Linked DNA regions of Homo sapiens. The protein of the gene in region 2 binds, or shares a complex with, the protein of the main gene of each other region. Each region holds a gene or a part of one and is shown on either strand. Other genes may lie near its edges. The genes, in order: ADGRD1, GNA13 and S1PR2.

Region 1 (7,104 bases), on a different chromosome or scaffold from region 2:
TCCTTCCTTCTTGCCTTCCATCCTCCCTTGCTCCCTTCCTTTCCTTCTTTCCTTCCTTCTTTCTTCTCTTCTCTCTCTCTCTCACTCTCTCTCTCCTCTCTTCTCTCTTTCTCTCTTTCTTTCTTTTTCTTTCTGACAGGATCTGTCATCCAGGCTGGAGTACAGTGGTGCAATCACAGCTTACTGCAGCGTTTAACTCCAGGGCTCAGGTGATCCTCCTACCTCAGTTGCCCAAGTAGCTGGGATTACCGGCATGTGCCACCATGTCTCACTAGTTTTTTTTTTTTTTTGGTACAGGTGAGGTCTTACTTGGTTGCCCAGGCTGGTCTCAAACTCCTGGCTTCAAGCGATCCTCCCATCTCAGCCTCCCAAAATGCGGGTCGTTTGTTTTCTTACTGTTGAATTTTAAGAGTTTTTGGGTGTATTTTGGATAATAGTCCTTTATCATGTCTTTTCCAAATATTTTCTCCCCATCCGTGACTTGTCTTCTCATTCTCTTGACAGTGTCTTTCACAGAGCAGACATTTTTAGTTGTAAGGAAGTCCAGCTTGTCAATTATTTCTTTCATGGATTGTGCCTTTGGTGTTGGATCTAATAAGTCATCACTAAACCCAAGGTCATCTAGATGTTTTTCCTATATTATCTTCTAAGGGTTTTATAGTTTTGCATTTTATATTAGACCTATAGTCCATTTTGAATTAATTTTTATGACAGGTTTAAGATTTTTTTTTTGTTTTTTTTGAGATGGAGTTTGGCTCTTGTTGTCCAGGCTGGAGTGCAATGGGGCGATCTCGGCTCACTGCAACCTCCACCTCCCGGGTTCAAGCAATTCTTCCTGCCTCAGCCTCCTGAGTAGCTGGGATTACAGACACCTGCCACCACGCCCAGCTAATTTTTTGTATTTTTGTGGAGACGGGGTTTTGCCATGTTGGCTAGGCTGGTCTCGAACTCCTGACTTCAGGTGATCCACCTGCCTCGGCCTCCCAAAGTGCTGAGGTTACAGGCGTGAGCCACTGCGTCCGGCCAAGATTCTTTTTATTTTTTGGAACGTGGATATTCAGTTGTTGCAGCACCATTTGTTGCAACAAATGGTTCTGTTTGTTCATTGTACTGCCTTTTCTCCTTTGTCAAAGATTGGTTGACTGTATTTTTATTGGTCTATCTCTGGGCTGTTTATTCTGTCCCACAGATCTATTCATCTGTTTTTTTCCAATGCCACACTGTCTTGACTACTGTAACTTTTTATAGTAAGTCTGGAAATTGGGTAGTGTTGTTCCTCCAATGTTGTTTTTCTCCTTCAATATTGTATTGGCTATTCTGGCTCTCTTCCTTCTCCATAGTTTATCAATATCCACAAAATAACTTGATGAGATTTTTATTGGGATTGTGTTGAATATATAGATCAATTTGGGAAGAACTGACATCTTCACAACATTGAGTCTTTCTGTCCATGAATATGGAATATCTCTCCATTTATTTAGTTCTTGTTTAATTTCTTTCATCAGAGTTATATAGTTTTCTTTATATATAGCTTATAAATGTATTGTTATAATATATGTATTTCTTTTTCCTTTTTTGGCACCAATGACAATGGTAATGTGTTTTTTAATTGTAAATTCTACTTGTTCGTTGCTGGCAGATGGGGAGCAATTGACTTGTATATTAACCTTGTAGCCTGTAATCTTGCTATGCTCACTCATTAGTTTCAGCTTTGTTGTTGATTCTTTTGGATTTTCTACATAGACAATCACATCATCTGTGAATAAATATAGTTTTATTGCATCCTTCCCAATATTTATATTCTTATTTCCTTTTTTTTCCTTTTTTGCCTTATTGCATTAGTTAGGACTTTCAGTACAATGTTAAAAAGGAGTGGTAAAAGGGGACATCCTTGTCTCGCTCCTGACCATTTTTTCTTAACTGAGCTTATGGTCTGATTGGTTGGCACTTGTGCCCTGCCATTTTTCAAATATTTTAATCACACTTGCTTGTGGGCATTTGAATTTGTAACTACTATGTTAAAATAACAAGGAGTCTCCTTGAACTGCTTCTGGAATTTAGGGCATAAGGACAAAAAGATAACATCCTTCCTGTGCTCCAAAGGACTGGGGAAAGTCAGGTCTGTGTTATACCTTGTATTAGGACGCACCACAGTTAACAGTGATTGATCACCTTAAGAAAGAAGGATGTGCCTACAAACAGGAAAAACCTGTGCATGGGGAGCTCATTCCCACAGTACTCAGAATGGCGATCTTCACTCTTTTCCAGGCCCCTATTGGACTCATGTCCTATTTACATGGAAATCCAAGGAGGGCCTGAAAGTCTACGTCAACGGGACCCTGAGCACCTCTGATCCGAGTGGAAAAGTGTCTCGTGACTATGGAGAGTCCAACGTCAACCTCGTGATAGGGTCTGAGCAGGACCAGGCCAAGTGTTATGAGAACGGTGCTTTCGATGAGTTCATCATCTGGGAGCGGGCTCTGACTCCGGATGAGATCGCCATGTACTTCACTGCTGCCATTGGTCAGTGAGTGTGAAGGGCTGGGGCAGATCCGCTGTCTGTTCCCAGGGTCACCCTGGTATCGGCCTCCTTTCTCCCCACTCTCCCGTTGCAGCTATCAGCACTGCAGGCGTGAGATGTGTCCTAATGAACCTTATAAACACAGTTGTGTGTTAGAACACCTGTTCCCTGAGATAGAGGAGTTAATAATTTACTAGAGATGCTTTGAGATGAATATTGTTCTGTTGATCATCACGGGGTTTCAAGGTATATGTGATGGACGATTATAGAAGGCTTTGGAGAGCAAGTATTCCAGATCCATTAGTGTTTTTGATCAACAAATGTTAGCCGTGTGCCTCCCAGGGGATGGGCCCTTGGAAAGCCCCGAAGATACCTCTTCCTATTCAGCACAGGGCAGTTGTTCGGGGCAGGGGCCTGTGGGTAGGTGGACTGGGGTTCAAATATTCATTGTGCCATAATGAGCCGTGAGACTTTGGGAAGTCATTTTTAAAAACTGAGGTCAAATTCATATATCATAAACATAACCATTTAAAAATGAACAAGTCAGTACACTTGGCACATTCACGGTGTTATGCAGCTGCCACCTCTACCTGGCTTGGAAACATTTTCATCCCCCCAAAAGGAAACCCCGCACCCGGTGAGTACAGTCACTCCCCGCCTTCCCCTCCCCCAGACTCTGGCAACCACGAATCTACTTTCTGTCTTTACCTATTTTGGAGATTCCACATAAATGGAAATGTGTAACGTATAACCTTTTTGTCTTAATCTCTCAGATTTTTTTTTTGCTCTGTTAAATGGATAAAAATACTCCCTTTCTGGGGGAGGTGTTGATAATAAAGGCCATTAGCACAATGCCTGGCATATGGCAAGAATCCAGTGGTTCTTAGCTGTTTTTAAAATTAATATTCATCTTTCCCCTACAATTCCATTTTCATGCTGCCCACAAGTGAATGCACCATTTTTTCCCCAATGGGTTTCTTTATTTCCACATAAAATAATCTGCTAAAAAATGACAGACCCCATGTAGGCACTCACAAACATGTGGCTGCTGCTTCATTGGGACCCAGCACAGCGGATGTCAGGACCAGGAGAGAAAGGCCTGAGTTCCAGACGCTGCCTGCCCTCGTTCCGCTTCTGACGTTGAGTCCCTCAGTTGTTAGGACCCTATTGATTGCATGACAGAAAACCCAATTCAAGATAACTTTAGCCAAGAAAGCCATGTGTTTCTTTTTCATCTCTTGCAATGGAAGCTCTAGGGGAAACTGCTTCAGAACTGGTTTGGTCCAGGTGCTCACATGATGTCAGTGGGAATCTCTGCGTTTGACCCTGCCCTCTTTTGTTAGCCTCCTCCTGGTGCCAAGGTGGCTGTCATGCTTCTAGTGTTGCATCCTCTGCCCTCAGCAGCCTCTGTGGAAAAGAGGGAGCTTCTTTCTCTTATCACTTCCCATGCTGGGGCTGGGCAGGACTCACATTGGCTCACATTTATCCATGCACCTTCCATGAGTCATTTTCTGTGTCTGGGAGTGCAGAATATGCTGACTGGCTTAGGTCTCTGTCATAGTCCCCCATCCCCAGCCCCCCTGAAATGACAGTGAGGTCAGCCTTGTCCAGAACATGTGGAGGAGAGGGGACTCCCAGGGGACAATCAGGTATGCTGGTCTCAGAAGGAACAGATGCTGTGCAGGCAAAACAGCCTGTGTCCACTACAGCCTTCGACATTTACATCTTCCAGCTTCCACCCAGGAAAACGGAATGCATTCCCTCTCCTAGCACTGACAGAGGGCAAATGATAGCATCCTTCAGAAGAAAAAAATGGACCAATCTACTGCATTTTATTGCCTAGGGTTTAGAGTTGTCACTTTGAAACCAAGATATCACTTGTATTTATGTTATGAAAAGCTTCAAACAAAGCCTGCCCTCCTGACAGTTTACTTGTTTTAGTAACACTGGAAAGAGGTGCCCTTGTTTCTGGTTCTTGTTCTTGTCAGAGCAAACCCTCATCGCCAGAACCAGAACTGAACCAGAACTGGATCGACCAGAATCCCATTGCACCTGGTGACCTGGTCTGAAGACAAGGCATACGACGTAAAGCATGTATAGGAGAATGGCTCTTGAAGTCCCTGGAAGGCCTGTGTGGGGCCCCGTGTACCACTGCTCAGTGAGTCTGACACAGCCGAGTTCAGGGCAGCCATGCAGAGTGACAACTGGAACTGAAATCCAGTCTGCTCCCAGCCAGGCCGGGCCTCGGTGGGGACATGGCCACACAAGTAGGTAGAAGTCTTTCTTTACATGAAGACCTGTCTGCATTTGAAGCTGTGCTGGGGCTGTAGGTGCCCAGAGGGGGCTTTTTTCTGAGTGACCTGGGCAGAGGTGACACCTCCTCTAATCTCATGAGCCAGAGCTGGCACCATTTGCTGACCGGTCCGTCCAGGTGTGGTGGCCTTTCCTGATACAAAGGCACAGTGCTGACCGTCTGTCACCCTGGCCAGGTGTCCCCTCTCCCTTACCACTGGAATGGACAGCAGCTCTTTCTGTAGAGGAGGAAGAAGGTTATGTTCAGATACGTGTAATCGGAAAGCATGTACCTTTGGGCACTGGAAACACACTCAACACGTGGGAACTGGGACCGACTGAGGACCTGGCAGATTCTCATTTTCACCCCAGTCTCCATGGTCATCGCTTGCAAGCGTTGGCAGGATCGCTGGACCGATTTTCACTATCCCTCACTCTGCTTTGTGGACACACACGAGTTAAATGTGAGTTTGACATGACTCCTCTGTAACTCATTGGCACCTGAGGAGTGAATGTCACTCTGACTTGGAGAACAGAGCGGTTCTGGGGTCCAGTTCTCTCGGCAGCGCCACACCTTCTGCGTTCACCAGCAGCCCAACCCCACCCAAACCCAAGGGCTCAGTCACTCCTGCAGCCAGCAAGGGGTGATGATGTCATTTCCTCAGCTCATCCAAAGCAACTTCAAGAGATTTTCCAAAAATGAAGTAGAATATCTGGTTAAGTGTGTGTTCTCATCAGGAAATAGTGGGATTAGAAATAGTTGGGGGTGAACAGGCAGAGAACAGCAAATCATGGCTTAGTCTTCAGCCTTAAATGTCTTCATTGTTTGTAATAATTCATCATTAACCCCATGGGGGCTGAGTGCAAAGAATAGCTGGAATCCTTGGGCTAGAGGGGGCTCAGGAAGACAGTTTTCTCCACTGCTTTACTGGGGCCTATTCTCACTTCATCGATCTCAGAGGAGAGCGCTCCCAGGGCTCCTGTCTGTGCTGGCCCAGCGAGTTGTAGCACTCCTCATTTTATCTCCAACCAGTCTGGATGCAATTGAAATCTATTTCTTTTGGTTCTTTATTTATTTGAAATCGGTAATCCTTGTATAAAATCATCTTTTGATATGCTGACTTGCATGAAGGGTGTTCAAAAGCGATTGAGAATACAAATGGAAAAGTAATGTGACCTGGGAAAATCTATACGGTCGACTCAGTCAGCTGATTTCTTAGCCCATAATTTATCTCCAGCAACATTCCTACTCAAAACATTCTCAGACTCTCTTCCATGTGTCTGAAGCCAGTACATTTTTAACAAGGACAGGTCTTCCTCGTGGTGAAAAAAGTGACCATGTTTTAGTCCTTAATCCAGCATTGTTTCTTCCAGGAAAGCATGCTTTATTGTCTTCAACGCTGCCAAGCCTCTTCATGACATCCACAGCAAGCCCCGTGGTGAGCAGACACATCTTCCTTGGTCCCCCTTGCTGATGTTCTTCTGCTTGGGCTGTTTGCTGGGAGAGAGAAAATTCCATTAGGTGTCTGGGCTCTCTGTTATCGGCAGTACATTGTCTGGGAAGAAATAACAAATGGAGGGGAAGCCAACTGCAGTACTAATTCTTGGTGCTAAGAGTGACTGAAGGGAAAACTCTCAACTCCTGCCACCAGGAACCTCAGGTGCCCAAAAGGAAATACCGGGCTCATTCATGGGACGTGGGCGCCGTGAGTGGGGAGTGAGGAATCTGCCCTGCTTGGCTTCTCTCTATGCCCTTTTCGTTTGATGTTAGAGAAAAGTTCAATTCATATAGAAAAATTCTTGTCTGGAATTAGTGTTTGTAGTTAAAGAACTGTCCTTTCTTGAGAACGTTAATATAATAGTGAGTGCACAGACTCTGACCCATCTGCTTGGGTTCAAATCCAAGTTCTACCACTTATTTTTGAGTAAGCCTCTCTGCGCTTAGTGTCATCCATCAAATGGGGACTTATTTTGTAAGGTTGTTGTGAGGATGAAATGTTAATATAAGCAAAATATTCACAAAAGTGTCAGATACATGGTAGGAGCTATATTACTATCATGGTATAAAAACATTTGACCAGCTGGGTGTGGTGGTTGCACCTGTAGTCCCAGCTGCTCAGAAAGCTGAGACAGGAGGACTGCTCGAGTCCAGCCTGGGAAACACAGTGAAACCCCATCTCTATAAATAAAAAAAAGAGCAGCCAGGCACAGTTGCTCATGCCTGTAATCCCAGCAATTTGGGAGGTCGAGGCAGAAGGATCACTTGAGGTCCGGAGCTCGAGACCAGCCTG
Region 2 (7,104 bases):
GCAGGGAACATTCAATCCAAGGAGTCCTTTGGCCATTATGCTTTTCTTTAAAGTAAGCTCACAAACCTTTTTCCTGGGTTAGGTCCACGCTCTAGGTAAAGAGTTCTGAAACTAAAGTCTACTTTTCATAACAAAACTATTTACTTGTTCCATCTCTTAGTTGTTTAATAAACATTTTCAGAGAATCATAAATTATTGTGCCCCTAGCTTTGTTTAGCAATAAAAGGTAATATAGAAAGCAGCACAGTATTTTCCAATTCCGGAAGCTTTAGCACCAAGAACCCAGACATCCTACAGCCAGTCAAGTTTTCACCCAAAAAAATGCGAACATGAAAATTTCAACATAATAGAATACAAGTGATACCACCTATGTGTGCATGCACACACACTTCACAAAGTTGTATTAAAACTATAAGTGTAAACTTAAAGGAACTGACGGAAATTTTAAAAAAGAAATTAATTAAAAAGAAAAAAACTTCATTTTTAACGTAAATAAACATAAAGCTCTGGGTTTACAAGATTTGGATAAAATGTAACCACTCTGACATCTGATCAATTTCATCAAAAGGAAATTAAACTCAACTTTAAAATCTCTACTATCTCTGGCTGGGTGAGGTGGCTCACTACTGTAATCCCAGCACTTTAGGAGGCTGAAGCAGGAGGATCACTTGAGCCCAGGAGTCCCAAGGTTACAGTGAACTATGATCACACCACTGCACTCCAGCCTGTGTAACAGAGTGAGACTCTGTCTCTAAAAAATATTAATAAAGTAAGATAAAAACCTCTACTATCTCTAATGTTATATATAATCTTTATTTTAGATGGGATGAAATATTTAACACTAATCCTAGAATCAAAAGATAACCAATAGGTTTTTAGCAACTCAAAGTCCTTGCTTGACTATACTTATAGAGAAAATGGACCAATCATCCAAAAGAAACATAGTATTTTACAACTGAAAGTAGCAATTCTTTAATATTTAAAGCAAATCCAAATTAGCATTAATTAATAAATGACTCTGATTCTTTTTTTTTTTTAAGAGGGAGGGGGCTGTCCTCACTATGTTGCCCACATTGGACTTGAACTCTTGAGGTCAAGCAATCCTCCTGTCTCCCCAGAAGCTGGGACTACAGGAGCTTCAAATGACTCTTGATTGTATTATATTTCCAATACATGCTGCAGTGCAAATAAATAAATAAAAAAAATTAGCTGAAACTGAAGTTTCTAGAATACTTAGTTGGACCTCCCCTTTTTACAGGCCAATCATGGAGCTAAATGGTTACTTTGTTACACAGATTGAGGGAGTAAATCTCTGTGTTAATGAATACACTATCTTATCGGCTTCAAGAAGAGTAACCTCAAGCACAAAAAGAAAAGAATTAAGTCTAACTGAAGGTACCATGATTAGCAAAAACACTTTGGTTTCAGGAATTGCAAAGACAGACTGGCCATTACAGGAAGTTGTATTAATGCTGACAATGTTAAACTGTTTACAGAAAGTAGGAAGCTGTGGGATGTTCCTCCCACTGTCACACACACTGTCCTGTCCTACGTAACAAGTGTTGCCTTATTTCTCAATAAGTGAATATAAATTAAACAAAAAAAAATAGTTGGAAATGACTCCTAGCCATTTTGTCAGTTTTCATCCATATCTCCAATTGTATCATCCAGCCAACCCCTGACTCCCATCTCTTTATTCATCTGAGTTACCAAATTATCTAGCTATTGTCACATAAGAAGGTTTTCTAAAGACAGGGTAACTCAAAAGTGCAGTGGCAGGCTATGTTGAATGTACAGCCAGAGTAGAGTATTTCAAATATTTAATTCAGTACTAAAACAGGCCACTTCTTACAATCTATTATCCTCAGTATGCTAATTTATAATAACTAGAAAGGTACCTTAAGTTATAACGAGAATGTGAATCTTGTATTTTTCTTTTCCACAGTAAGCTATTTAGCTGACCCATGATGGAACTAACCAAAAAAGGAAATGTTTACCTTTGGGAACTTAGAAAGAAAAACATTCATGTTTACACCCAAAGTTATTACTAACAAATGAGTAGTCTGCTAAAAACCTAAGCTGTGTTATCAACACCCTATCCCTTGTCCCGAAAATTGATTAAAGGGCAGTTGTTCATCTTAGGCAAAATGTTAAGTCATGTAGGGCCTTAAAACCTGTCAGTTTTTAATGTGCATTAATAAGTTTAATAATCAAATCATTAGTTGAAACGAAAAGGTTAATTTTAATTTTAGTTATTTTATCTGCTAACCTCTATTTCTTCTGATGTTTACCTTTCCTATCCAAAATTCAAAAATATGCTGCTAAACATAACAAAACACATTTCAACCCCCCCAAATAAAAATTATAATTACACAAGAACTGTCCACTTCCTAGAAAATTAGGAAACTATTATAGAAATAATCCATATTTCCCAGAAGGAACTTAATGTAGAATTAAATTATATTACATATTTTTTAATTTTTATTTTTTTGAGACAGGGTCTCACTCTGACGTTCAAGCTGGAGTGCAGTGGCATGATCTCCACTCACTGCAACCTCCACCTCCTGAGTTCAAGCGATTCTCGTGCCTCAGTCTCCTGAGTAGCCAGGACTACAGGTACATGTCACCATGCCTGGCTAATTTTTGGTTTTGGTTTTGGTTTTTGGTAGAGATGGGGTTTCACCATGTCAGCCAGGCTGGTTTCCAACTCCTGACCTCAAGTGATCTGCCTGCCTCAGCCTCCCAAAGAGCTGGGATTACAGGTATTTTATTTTTTTAGAACATCTTTGTAATTAAGAATGTCTGAAAAACGAGGAAATAAAAGTGTCAGGCACTATGCTAGTAGGAGAGAAAAAGACAAACTAGGCATACCAAAGGACTTCTACATGACTGACAGCCACACATGAAAGCTGTGACTCTAACACACATAATGGGTACTGTGAGGAGTGACAGGAGTAAGCATGCTAGGGAAAGCAAAGGACACGGAGATCTCCATTCTAGCCAAGAAGACTGGAGATGCTTCAAATAAAGAGACACAGCCCCTAAGGCACTGTTCCTGGGGAAAGGGAGGGGGCATGGAGCAAATTCATCCAAACCACCTATGGCTATTTGCTGAAAACACAGATCACTGGGTCCCATCCCAGAATCCAGAATCAGATCCTCAGGTATAAAGTCTGAGCATCTGCTTGTTTGTTTTAACAAGCATTCCAGTCCATGGGGTCCATGGGCCACATTTAGTGTGATTATCACTACATTAAGTGAAGGGTAAGACCTAGTAACAGATAGGGTAAAGAATAATTCTGGCAGAGGGACTACGCATGATGAGAGCTATAGAAGCAAAAAATTAGGGTATGTGGGAATCAAGAGATTACAGAGTATGTCCAGTGGCCTAATGAAATATATTGCTGGAATCACAGGTAAGCTAGCTAGAGTCTTTACTCCCACAAAAAAGCTGAGCTCTGTTCTGAAGACAATGGTGAGCCACCAAAGCTTTCTGAGCAAACCAATGCTGTGTTTGAACAAGACTGCCTTGGAGTCCAAGCAAGAGGTAGCAGAACACAAAATAGAGGAAAGGAGGGAATGAATGCAAGAGACGTTACAGAGGTAGAAAAATCAGAACTTGGGGAGCTGCTGCATGTAGATGAGTAGATGGAATTGATGATGACTTTGAGGAAAATTTTAAGTAAGCCAAGTGCCTTCTCAGTGCCTGACACTATGCCAAGCACCACAGCACATCCAAGAGTTTAAGAGTCATTAAGTCAACATAATAATGGAGCATCTCTATGTGTCAGGTGCTATTAACAATGCTGAAGCCACGCACAGTGGTTCATGCCTATAATCCCAACATTTTGGGAAGCCAAGGCAGGAGGACTGCTTGAGGTCAGGAGTCCAAGACCAGCACTGGCAACATAGCAAGACTCCGTCTCTACAAAAATTTTTTTTTAAATTAGCTGGGTGTGACGGCACACACCTGTAGTCCTAGCTACTTGAGAGACTGAAGCTGGAGAATCACTTGAGCCCAGGAGTTGAGTCTACAGTGAGCTATGATCACAACAGGGCACTCCAGCCTGGGCAACAGTGAGACCTTCTCTTAAAAAACAAAAACAAAAAAACAAAAAACAATGCTGAGCGTAGACTCAGGAAAAAAGAATCTCTGTCCTCCAGAAGTTTAAAATTAGGTCTTGCTCTGTTCCTCTTTTCTTGTCTCTACTTTTCATCATGGAAAAAAGTATTTCTGGAACTTATCTCTCCTCATCTTTGAGGACTTCTTTGCTCCTTAAGGATCAACTGGCTCAAGTCAACAACAAGCAGGTCCTCATCCTGAGTGGTTTTACCTATTCGTTCTTAATCACAAAGATATACTTAGGGATGCTTTCTCAACAATGAGGACATGACAGTCCTGATGTGAGACAGTTAGACGTCAGCTTCCAAATTAAAAAACTGTCCATGAAACACAACTTTAATTAAATGGACTTAGGGCAAATACGGAACTTCCCCACAGAGAACTTTCAGGTATGCAGTTCTTTATTTATTCATTTAATCCATATGCACTGTATGCTTATTACAGATGAATGTTTCTTCTCTGACCTGGAAGGATGAATAGAGCCTGACAAAATTGAGTTGAAAGTGTGTGGTTTGTTGAGAAAATGAACTAAGAAGAAAGGAGAATAAGCAGCACTTAAAAACAGGAGGTAGATGGCCAGGCACAGTGGCTCATGCCTGTAATCCCAGCACTTTGGGAGGGCAAGGCAGGCAGATCACCTGAGGTCAGGAGTTAGAGACCAGCTTGACCAACATGGAGAAACACTGTCTCTACTAAAAATACAAAATTAGCCAGGTGTGGTGGCGCATGCCTGTAATCTCAGCTACTTGGGAGGCTGAGGCAGGAGAATCGCCTGAACCCAGGAGGCGGAGGTGAGCCAAGATCGCGCCACTGCACTCCAGCCTGGGCAACAAGAACAAAACTCTCAAAAAAATGCAAAAAAACAAAAAACAGGAGGTAGAGTGATGGGCGATGGAAAGGGGTATATGGAAGAACTCATGCAAGCAAATCTACCAAAAATAAAGTAATAAACATTGATCAAGGGACAAAACTAACCAGAAATCTGGGAATTGGATGGAGGTCATTTGTCAAGTTAAATTCATCATTTTCAACATGCAATACTGGCAGCTACGTAATTTTAACAATAATGTGAGACAGTCCCTGCCTTTCAGAAATAAACACATTACTTGAAAAGACAAGATACAAACATGATAGAAGAGAACTATACAAGACGGTAAATAATCAAATGCTAGTTGAATGACAGATATAAAAGCCATAATTCAGATATAGTCAAAATTAAGGTGTCAGTTTTATAAAAAGCTATCGTGAACACTTTCCTGGAACTTTTAAAAGGCAAGACTGCTTCTAAGTATAAATAATAACAGCAAGGACTGCTGGTTGTACATCGCTTTGCAGCCACACCCATTAATGTGGATTAATGTTGGTGACATCATCAAACAACTTCCTAAGCAGCTTATTTATTTTTTTTTTGGAGATGGAGTTCTGCTCTTGTTGCCCAGGCTGGAGTGCAGTGGCACGAACTCGGCTTACCGCAGCCTCCGCTTCCAGAGTTCAAGCGAGTCTCCTGCCTCAGCCTCCTGAGTAGCTGGGATTACAGGTGCCTGCCACCACACCTGGCTAATTTTTGTATTTTTAGAAGAGACGGTGTTTCACCGTGTTGGCCAGGCTGGTTTCAAACTTCTGACATCAGGTGATCCACCCGCCTCAGACTCCCAAAGTGCTGGGATTACAGGCATGAGCCACCGTGCCCAGCCAGCAGTTTTACTTTTAACTGTCACTTCATTTTAATCATATTAGAGTAAAACACTTCAGATCTGAACTACCTCCAAATTGCACACAGTCTAGATTTCTATCACTGCTGGAATCTTTCTGATCTTTGGCAAATAAAACCCAATCACAGCATTCACAGTTAAATTACAAAACACTTGATTAAAAATTTGTTTCAACTGTATTCTGTATCTTTAACCTGGATTGGATACTTTTATTCCAAACCTGTCTTCAATGCTGTGTAACAGCTACAAAGCATTTTATGGGTAGTCTCGTTAAAGAAAAAAGGGGAAAAATGCCTGGCACAATGCCAGCAATTTGGGAGGTCAAAGTGGGCACATTACCTGAGGTCAGGAGTTCAAGATCAGCCTGGCCAACATGGCGAAACTGCCTCTACTAAAAAGACAAAAATTAGCTAGGTGTGGTGGCACGCGCCTATAGACCCAGCTACACAGGAGGCTGAGGCAGGAGAGTTGCTTGAACCCTGGGGGCAGAGGTTGCAGTGGGCCAAGATCACACCACTGCACTCCAGCCTGGGCAACAGAGACTCCGTCTCAAAACAAACCCCCCAAAAACAAAAAAACAAATTTCTGAGGCTATAATTTTGGATAGATACATTAAATTATGGAAGTCAGTGAAAAAAGTGTGCTAAAATCAGATACAGGTTGAGTGTCCCTTATCCGAATGCCTGGGACCAGAAGTGTTTTGGATTTTGAATTTTTTCAGATTTTTGAAATATCTGCATACATATGAGATATGCTGGGAATGGGACTCAAGTCTAAACTAGAAATTCATTTATGTTTCATATATACCTTAAGATATGTAGCCTAAAGGTAATTTTATACACTATTTTTACACGTAGTCATTAGAGACTAGGACACATTAGGTCTGTGCCTTAGCCTTTCAGTCTGTTCCTCCATCTCAAATACTTTTAGATTTGGGAACATTTCGAATTTTCGCATTAGGGATGTGCAACCTGTATTACTAAACATCATTAAAATAAAACCACACGTTTTAAAAGAGCAAATCTCTTACCAGTTGAAATTCTCGACGCCGGTCATAGGCATTCTGTATGCCGCTGTCTGCCCATAATGCTCTTATAGCAGGAAGATATTGTAAGAAAACCCTTGTTTCCACCATTCCTTGGGCTGCCATGGGGGCCCGGGTATCAAACGACATCATCTTATCTCCATGTTGTTGGTTTGAGTTGTCTCCCCAGGGAATATGAAGCTTCTCTCGAGCATCAACCAGCACCCTCATACCTTTGTTTAAAA
Region 3 (7,782 bases), on a different chromosome or scaffold from region 2:
CTTGGTAGAAGAGGCAGTGAGGTTTTGCCAAGGTCCAAGTGCGCCCCAAGATCTGGCCCAGAACCCAGCAGACCCTGAAATCGAGCTCAGGAAAAGGGGCAAAGTGTAGAATTGACTAGTCACTTTCTGACTTTCTTTGTATCCCCCCTTCAAAGCCCCATCACCCTGTGTTAGAATTGTCTGGTTTCGGCCGGGCACGGTGGCTCACGCCTATAATCCCAGCACTTTGGGAGGCTGAGGCAGGTGGATCGCCTGAAGTCAGGAGTTCAAGACCAGCCTGGCCAACATGGTGAAACCCCATCTCTACTGAAAATACAAAAATTAGCCGGGTGTGGTGGTGTGCGCCTGTAATCCCAGATACTTGGGAGGCTGAGGCAGGAGAATTGCTTGAACCTGGGAGGTGGAGGTTGCAGCGAGCCGAGATCTTGCCAGTGCACTCCAGCCTTGGCGACAGAGCGAGACTCTGTCTCAAAATAAATAAATAAATAAATAAATAAATAAAAATAATTGTCTGGTTTCTTCTCTGTCTCCTCCATCAGACTGTCAGCTTTGGATGGCAGCAACCAATTAGGCATCACCAGGCTTAGCACAGAGCATTACATGTTGTGTTACATACACACATATATTGCATGCCTATATGTAGCATTAACGTGTTGATTTTTTTTTTTTTTTTGAGATGGGCTCTTACTATATTGCCTGGGCTGGTCTCAGATTCCTGGCCTCAAGCAATCCTCCCGCCTCTGCCTCCCAAAGTGCTAGGATTACAGTTGTGAGTTATCGTGCTTGGCCTGTTGATTTTTTTTTTTTCCAGACAGTGTCTTGCTCTGTCAACTAGGCTGGAGTGCAGCAGTGTGATTTCAGCTAACTTCAACCTCCACCTCTCAGGCTCAAGTGATCCTCCCACCCCAGCCTCATGAGTAGCTGGAACTACAGGCACACACAACCATGCTTGGCTAATGTTTAATTTTTTGTTTTTTCTTTTGTAGAGACGAAGTCTCACTATATTGCGCAGGCTGATCTCAAGCTCCTGGGCACAACTGGTCTTCCCACCTTGGCCTCTCAAAGTGCTGGGATTACAGACATGAGCCACTATCCATGACCAATTTTTTAAAATTTTTAATATATTTTTTGAGATGGAGTTTCACTCTGTCGCCTAGGCTGGAGTGCAGTGGCACGATCTTGGCTCACTGCAACCTCCACCTCCCGGGTTCAAGCAGTTCTCCTGCCCCAGCCTCCAGAGTGGCTGTGACTACAGGCACCTGCTACCACGCCTGGCTAGTTTTTTGTGTTTTTTTTTGTTTGTTTTTTTGTTTTTTTGAGATGCAGTCTCACTCTGTTGCCCAGGCTGGAATGCAGTGGCGGGATCTCGGCTCAGTGCAACCTCCGCCTCCTGGGTTCAAGTGATTCTACTGCCTCAGCCTCCCAAGTAGTTGGGACTACAGGTGTGCACCACTGTGCCCAGCTAATTTTTGTATTTTTAATAGACACCGGGTTTCACCATGTTGGCCAGACTGGTCTTGAACTCCTGACCTCGTGATCTGCCTGCCTCAGCCTCCCAATAATTTTGGTATTTTTAATAGAGATGGGGTTTCACCATATTGGTCAGGCTAGTCTCGAACTGCTGAATTCAGGTGATCCCCTTGCCTCGACCTCTTTGTACATTTTTTTGAATTGGTAATAGAAGCTAAAGATTTCAAACAGCAGGCTGGGCGCAGTGGCTTATGCCTGTAATCCCAGCACTTTGGGAGGCTGAGGCAGGCGGATCACCTGAGGTCAGGAATTCGAGACCAGCCTGGCCAATATGGAGATACCTCGTCTCAAAAAAAAAAAAAAAAAAAAAAAAAAGATTTCAAACAGCCCTCCAGGGTATACCATGAAAAGCTGTTTCTTCTTACCTCGTTTCCCTGCCCCCTGGTTCCTCTCCCTAAGAGTAACTGTTGTGACTAGGGTCTGGTGCCTTCTCCCAGAGACAGACTGTGTGTCACAGGCAAATGTGTGTGTATTTATATAGTTCTTATAAATACACCCAGAAATGCAATGCATACTGGTCTACACTGTACTTTTTCAACTTAATATGTTGAAGACCATTTCCCATCAGTACACACAAGACTACTCCATTTATTTATTTAGTTTTATTTATTTATTTATTTAAAATGGAGTATTGCTGTGTCACCCAGGCTGGAGTGCAATGGCATGATCTCGGCTCACTGGAACCTCTACCTCCAGGGTTCAAGCAATTCTCCTGCCTTAGCCTCCCGAGTAGCTGGGACTCCAGGCACACACTACCATTCCCGGCTAATTTTTGTACTTTTAGTACAGATGGGGTTCGCCATGTTGGCCAGCCTGGTCTTGAACTCCTGACCTCAGGTGATCCACCTGCCTTTGCCTCCCAAAGTGCTGGGGTTACAGGTGTGAGCCATTGCACCCAGCCTCTTTATTTTTATTTTATTTTTTGAGACGGAGTCTTGCTCTGTTGCCCAGGCTGAAGTCCAATAGCACCATGTTGGCTCACTGCAACGCCCGCCTCCCCGGGTTCAAGCGATTCTCCTAACTCAGCCTCCCGAGTAGCTGGGATTACAGGCGCCCGCCACCACGCCCGGCTAATTTTTTGTATTTTTAGTAAAGAAAGGGTTTTGCCATATTGGCCAGACTGGTCTCGAACTCCTGACCTCAAGTGATCCACCCACCTTGGAGTCCTAGAGTGCTGGGATTACAGGCGTGAGCCACCATGCCCAGCCAATTTTTATATTTTTTGTAGAGATGGAGTTACACCATGTTGCCCAGGCTAATCTAGAACTCCTAGGGTCAAGCAATCCACCCACCTTGGCTTCCCAAACTGTTGGGATTACAGTCGTGAGCCACCGTGCCTGGCCAGATTATGTTTATAACATATAATGTCTACATTTTCACAAATGGTACCCTCATAAAAAGCCATATTTCCCACCTGAACATAAGATCCACTGGGTTGGCCAGGCACGGTTGTTCATGCCTGTAATCCCAGCACTTTGGGAGGCCAAGGCGGGCAGATCATGAGGTCAGGAGATCGAAACCATCCTGGCCAACATGGTGAAACCTCCATCTCTACTAAAACTACAAAAATTAGCTGGGCATGGTGGCGCATGCCTGTAATCCCAGCTACTCAGGAGGCTGAGGCAGAAGAATCGCTTGAACCCGGGAGGCAGAGGTTGCAGTGAGCCGAGATAGTGCCACTACATTCCAGCCTGGCGACAGAGCTAGACTCTGTCTCAAAAAAAAAAAAAAATCCATCTGGTCAAGGAGTTTTTCCTTTTTGTTGCTGTTGTTGTTGTTCACTGCTGTGCCCAGTAGGTGCATAAAAAATATTTGTTGCCAGGTGCTGTGGTTTACATTTGTAATCCCAGCACTTGGGGAGGCCGAGGCAGGCGGATCACTTGAGGTCACGAGTTCGAGACCAGCCTGGCCAACATGGTGAAACCCTGTCTTTACTAAAAATACAAAAAAATCAGCCAGGCGTGGTGGCACGCGCCTGTATTTCCAGCTACTTGTGAAGCTGAGGCACAGGAATAGCTTGAACCTGGGAGGCAGAGGTTGCAGTGAGCTGAGATGGCACCACTGCACCCCAGCCTGGGAGATAAAGGAAGACTCTGTCTCAAACAAAAAAATTTTGTTGCTGGAATGAGGGGCTTTCCTATCCTGTTGTCGAACTGCTGGTTACACACACACACACACACACACACACACACACACACACACACATCATTCGATGAAGGTGTAGTGTCCATCATTTCCGCAGGCAGGCACACAGAAATGCCCAGGAATTAGTGAAAATTGGAAATCTGGATAGAAGACTGGGCCCGACGCTGGAAGGCAGGCACAAACTGGGCCCCGCCAGAGGGGACAGTGATCTACAGAGGCAGGAAAGAGTGTGGAGTGTCCCCAGTCCCCCAAGGGAAACAGGGCAGCACCTGAATTCTGGAGGTCCTATCAAGGGAGAGACTGGTCAGGCACAGTGGCTCACGCCTGTCATTCCAGCACTTTGGGAGGCTGAGGCAGTAGGATTGCTTGAATGCAGCAGTTCAAGACCAGCCTGGGCAACACAGCGAGACCCCATCTCTACAAAAAACTGCAAAAAATTAGCCAGGCATGATGGCGCACCTGTAGTCCCAGCTACTCTGGAGGCTGAGGCAGGAGGCTGAGGCTCCCGTGAGCTATGATTGAGCCACCACACTCTGGCCTGGATGACAGAGCAAGACCATGTCTCAAAAAAAGAAAAAAAAAAAGAGATCAATTTTGTCTTTGGGACAGGACATCGCACTTAGTAGGAATTTATTTGTTGGGTGGACACACAGTAGGCACTTAATGCCTATTTGCTGCGTTGACACCTAGTAGGTACTTCCAAGGCTCTTTGTTGAGTCAATAAATGTGACCTCGTGTTTTCTTCCAAGTCCAGGGTCCCAGGGGTAAGCCCAGAGGTAACCTGGGGTTGAAGACAGTTGTTTCAGGTTGAGGCCACCTGGCCAGGAGTACTGTGACGTCACCAGGCTGCGTGACGTTTCGCGCCGGCCGGTTCTCACGGGTGGGGGCTGGGAGGGGCAGAGTGAGAGATCGGGTGGGGGGGGCGGACAAAGGGCCCTCCGTGCAGCTCCTGTCGGCCCCCGCGTGCGCCCCGGCCAGCCGGCCGGTCACATCTGGAATTCATTGCAGCCGCCGCCGGAAAGGGGAGGAGAGGAGGGCGGGGCGAGCGGGGGGCAGAGGCGGCGGCTCTCCGCCCCCCCCTCTGTCCCTCGTCCCAGCCCCGGGACTTAGCCGAGCCCGGCTGGCAACCCCAGCCCCAGCCGCGGCCGCCCTGGGGACGCAGACGCCAAGGCCCCTCCGGCCAGGGCCGGGAGCCGGGCCGGCCTAGCCAGGTGAGCGCGCGTGGCGACAAGGAGGCAGAAAAGGCGGGCCTGGTCCCCTGAGGTCTCGGGATCCGAGCTGAGGGGCCCCAATCGGGGGGCTGGGGCGCGCACGCGCCGCCTGGGTTCCTGCTGCACGGAGCGGGTGGTCACAGTGCGCCCTCTCCAAGAATCCGGGCGGCCCCCACTGCCTCGGCCGCGAACCCGCAGACTGTGCTCCCCGCCTTTCTCAGCGGCAGGAAGTTGGCGCCGGGGAGAAGGCTGAATCCGAGCGCTTTCGACTGGAGTCTTTGGGAGGCAGGACGCCGTGCTCGGGGACCGGGGTCTTGGGGAGTGTGTTTGGGGGGGGGCAACACCCCTCCTGGCTGACTCCGGCTGAGCGAGGGCAAAAGGATGTGCGCGCCGTGGAGCCTCCAAGCCAAGGGGCGGCACCCACGGGGAGGGCGGTCGGACGTCGGGCTTTCTGCCTCGGTTTCCCCAAGTTGTTTGCCTCCTCCGGTCCCCCGGCGGGGGGCGTGGCTTTGTTTTGTAAGGAAAGAGAAAGTGACTGCGTGGCTCAGACGCCTCCTCTTTCAACTCCGGCTCAGGGATGGGTCGTGGGTGAAGGCGCGCGTGGCGCGGACCTCGCGTGGCCCCGAGCCGGGCGGAGCGTCGGAACTCGCCCCCTTCTCAGGCACGGGTTGACTCACCCGGGGATTTCCACCCCCTCCTCTGTCTCTGTCCTTGTCAGATGCTCCGGGCCCCACGCGCTGAGCCCACAGTCCCCCTCGTGGGGCGACACGGCCAGGCGCGGAACTCGCGGTGCAGCTGCTGCTGCGATCTGGTCCCCCACCCCCAGTCTTCCCAGAATCTCGAGGCGGGACCCCTGGCGGGACGGAGAGGAATCCTTCCAGTGCCGCTTGGAGACGTGGGGGCCCCGCGCGTGTGGCGGTCTCGGGGGCGGGGGGGAGAGGAGGCGTGGCTCCCGCGCGAGCGAGCGTGGATACCGCGCATTCCTAAACCAGATAAGGAGGCCGAGAGTGCGGGCCAGCACGGGGTCGGGTCCTGCTGCCATCTCCATGGAGACACGCTGGGCTTTGCCTGGTTGATGGTGGGCGATGGGGGCGCTGCCCGCGGACCAGAGGTGTCTCCAGGCTCCTTTGTTGCTGTTTGGGTCTGGGCTGAGCTTAGGAGTTTCCACCCTTGGGAACCCACTAGGGTCTCCTTTGTTCATTGGTTCATTCATTCATTCATTCATTTGCCCATTCCACACGTTTTCTGAGTGTTTTATTTGTGCCAGGCATCCCTGTAGGGGCTGATAACTGACTTGCTCCCTGGCCTTAGGCATTGACTGTCTAGGTGGAAGCCAGACAGAAAAGGAAAGATATCATGATAGTTTCCCATAGTGGCAAGCGCTGTGCAGATAATAAAACGAGATTCTGTGATTAGAAAAGGCTTGGAGATGGCTGCTATTGTAGACTGGGGGTCAGGGGAGTCCCCTCTGAGGAAGTGACCTTTAAATAGAAAGGTCACTTTCTATAAGGTAGGGTGGCTACCACGGGCTCCATGGGTGACCAGGGGGAACTGTAACCACAGGGCCTGCCTTTCTGAAAGATGGGGAGACAGTCATTCAAAGATTTGAGGAAAGGCCAGGCGTGGTGGCTCACGCCTGTAATCCCAGCACTTTCCTAGGCTTAGGCAGGTGAATCACCTGAAGTCAGGAGTTCCAGACCAGCCTGGCCAACATGGTGAAACCCCATCTCTACTAAAAATACAAAAATTAGCCAGGTGTGGTGGTAGGCACCTATAATCCCAGCTACTCAGGAGGCTGAGGCAGGAGAATCGCTTGAACTCAGGAGGCAGAGGTTGTGGTGAGCCGAGATCACACCACTGCACTCTAGCCTGGGCAACAGAGTGAGACTCTGTCTCAAAAAAAAAAAATTTTTTTTTTGAGAAAAAGAGTGTGCCCCAAGAAGAACAGCAGGGGTAAAGGCTTGGAGGTAGGGGTAGGGGTAGCATGGAGGAGGTTTAGTGTGGTTGGAGTGGAATGGCCCTGGGGGAAGAGTGGGAGGAGGCTTCATCGGCAGGGGCCATCCTACTTGGGCTATAGGGAGCCATGGAAGAATTTGGAGTTGGGGAGTGACATGGAGTTACAAGTTTAAAAGCTCCCCCTGGCTGCTTGGTAGAGAATGGCAGGGTAGGGGGTCCTGACAACCACAGAGAAACCAAAAGGTAGGGTGGCTACCACGGGCTCCATGGGTGACCAGGGGGAACTGTAACCACAGGGCCTGCCTTTCTGGAACTGGGAGTGGGTGGAGAGGACCTTGGAAGCCACTGAGGCTTCCTCCATCCTTCCCCTCTCCTAATCTCCAGACAAACAGTCGTCTGAGTCTATCTCTCTTCCCTTCCTTCCAAACCCCATCACTTGTCCCTCCTGTTCCATTTCAGGCCTGGACATTCTATGTGAGCCCAGTGGCCTCTTTCTGAGCTTCTGAGAGGGAGTCAGGGCAGACTTGGTGAAGGTGACCGGGAGACAGGCTCTGTGTCCTTCTCAAAACCTGGTAACCTTACACAGGGAGGGGACATGGGCTAGGCCACGCCATCCACCTAGGGGGTGACTCTTCTGCCAGCTCCAACCTCAGTGCCCTGCTTCCTCTTTCTGGGAGGCGTCAACCGCCCAAGTGCTTGCCTCAGTAAAGTCCTAGTGGTTAAGATGAGTCTTGGATAGAATGTGGGCCTCAGTTTCCCCTTCTCTAGGAGAGCTGCTTCTCCCTCTGTGAATGCCTTAGCCTCCCCGGGCTGCAGAAGGTGAGAGTGCAGCACCCCCAGTCTTCCTCTCAGGGAAAAAGACAGACTGCTTAGTTAGTCCCTGGGGTGCAAGGGCTGAACACATTTCATTTTGTTTTGTTTTGTTTTGTTTTGTTTTGAG

What was found.
Region 1: the proteins of GNA13 (region 2) and ADGRD1 are in contact, whole or in part, in a cryo-EM structure (PDB 9V0U), measured with the Homo sapiens proteins. Residues at the interface, in NP_006563.2 of Homo sapiens: Val49, Val216, Phe218, Phe359, Val362, Lys363, Asp364, Ile366, Leu367, His368, Asn370, Leu371, Gln373, Leu374, Met375; in NP_942122.2 of Homo sapiens: Asn599, Arg601, Leu657, Met660, Val661, Ile662, Val664, Phe665, Ser667, Val737, Ile738, Ile741, Ala761, Val764, Asn810.
Region 3: the proteins of GNA13 (region 2) and S1PR2 are in contact, whole or in part, in a cryo-EM structure (PDB 7T6B), measured with the Homo sapiens proteins. Residues at the interface, in NP_006563.2 of Homo sapiens: Arg47, Val216, Phe359, Lys363, Asp364, Ile366, Leu367, His368, Asp369, Asn370, Leu371, Gln373, Leu374, Met375, Leu376, Gln377; in NP_004221.3 of Homo sapiens: Ser66, Met68, Tyr69, Leu72, Arg130, Ala133, Ile134, Lys136, Val137, Lys138, Leu139, Tyr140, Tyr209, Ile212, Val216, Ser219, Gln227, Thr228, Leu231, Leu232, Val235, Tyr288.

The regions. Positions count from the first base shown.
Region 1 is NC_000012.12:130,984,827-130,991,930, forward strand, and holds part of ADGRD1 (adhesion G-protein coupled receptor D1 isoform 1 precursor), read left to right. Parts: intron 1-2,268; coding exon 2,269-2,523; intron 2,524-5,799; exon of another isoform or gene 5,800-6,187; coding exon 6,188-6,252; exon of another isoform or gene 6,253-6,311; intron 6,312-7,104. UniProt on the Homo sapiens protein: Adhesion G-protein coupled receptor (aGPCR) for androgen hormone 5alpha-dihydrotestosterone (5alpha-DHT), also named 17beta-hydroxy-5alpha-androstan-3-one, the most potent hormone among androgens. Also activated by methenolone drug.
Region 2 is NC_000017.11:65,046,637-65,053,740, forward strand, and holds part of GNA13 (guanine nucleotide-binding protein subunit alpha-13), read right to left. Parts: intron 7,093-7,104; coding exon 6,866-7,092; intron 1-6,865. UniProt on the Homo sapiens protein: Guanine nucleotide-binding proteins (G proteins) are involved as modulators or transducers in various transmembrane signaling systems.
Region 3 is NC_000019.10:10,228,308-10,236,089, reverse strand, and holds the start of S1PR2 (sphingosine 1-phosphate receptor 2), read left to right. Parts: upstream 1-4,758; 5' UTR 4,759-4,886; intron 4,887-5,604; exon of another isoform or gene 5,605-5,677; intron 5,678-7,782. UniProt on the Homo sapiens protein: Receptor for the lysosphingolipid sphingosine 1-phosphate (S1P). S1P is a bioactive lysophospholipid that elicits diverse physiological effects on most types of cells and tissues.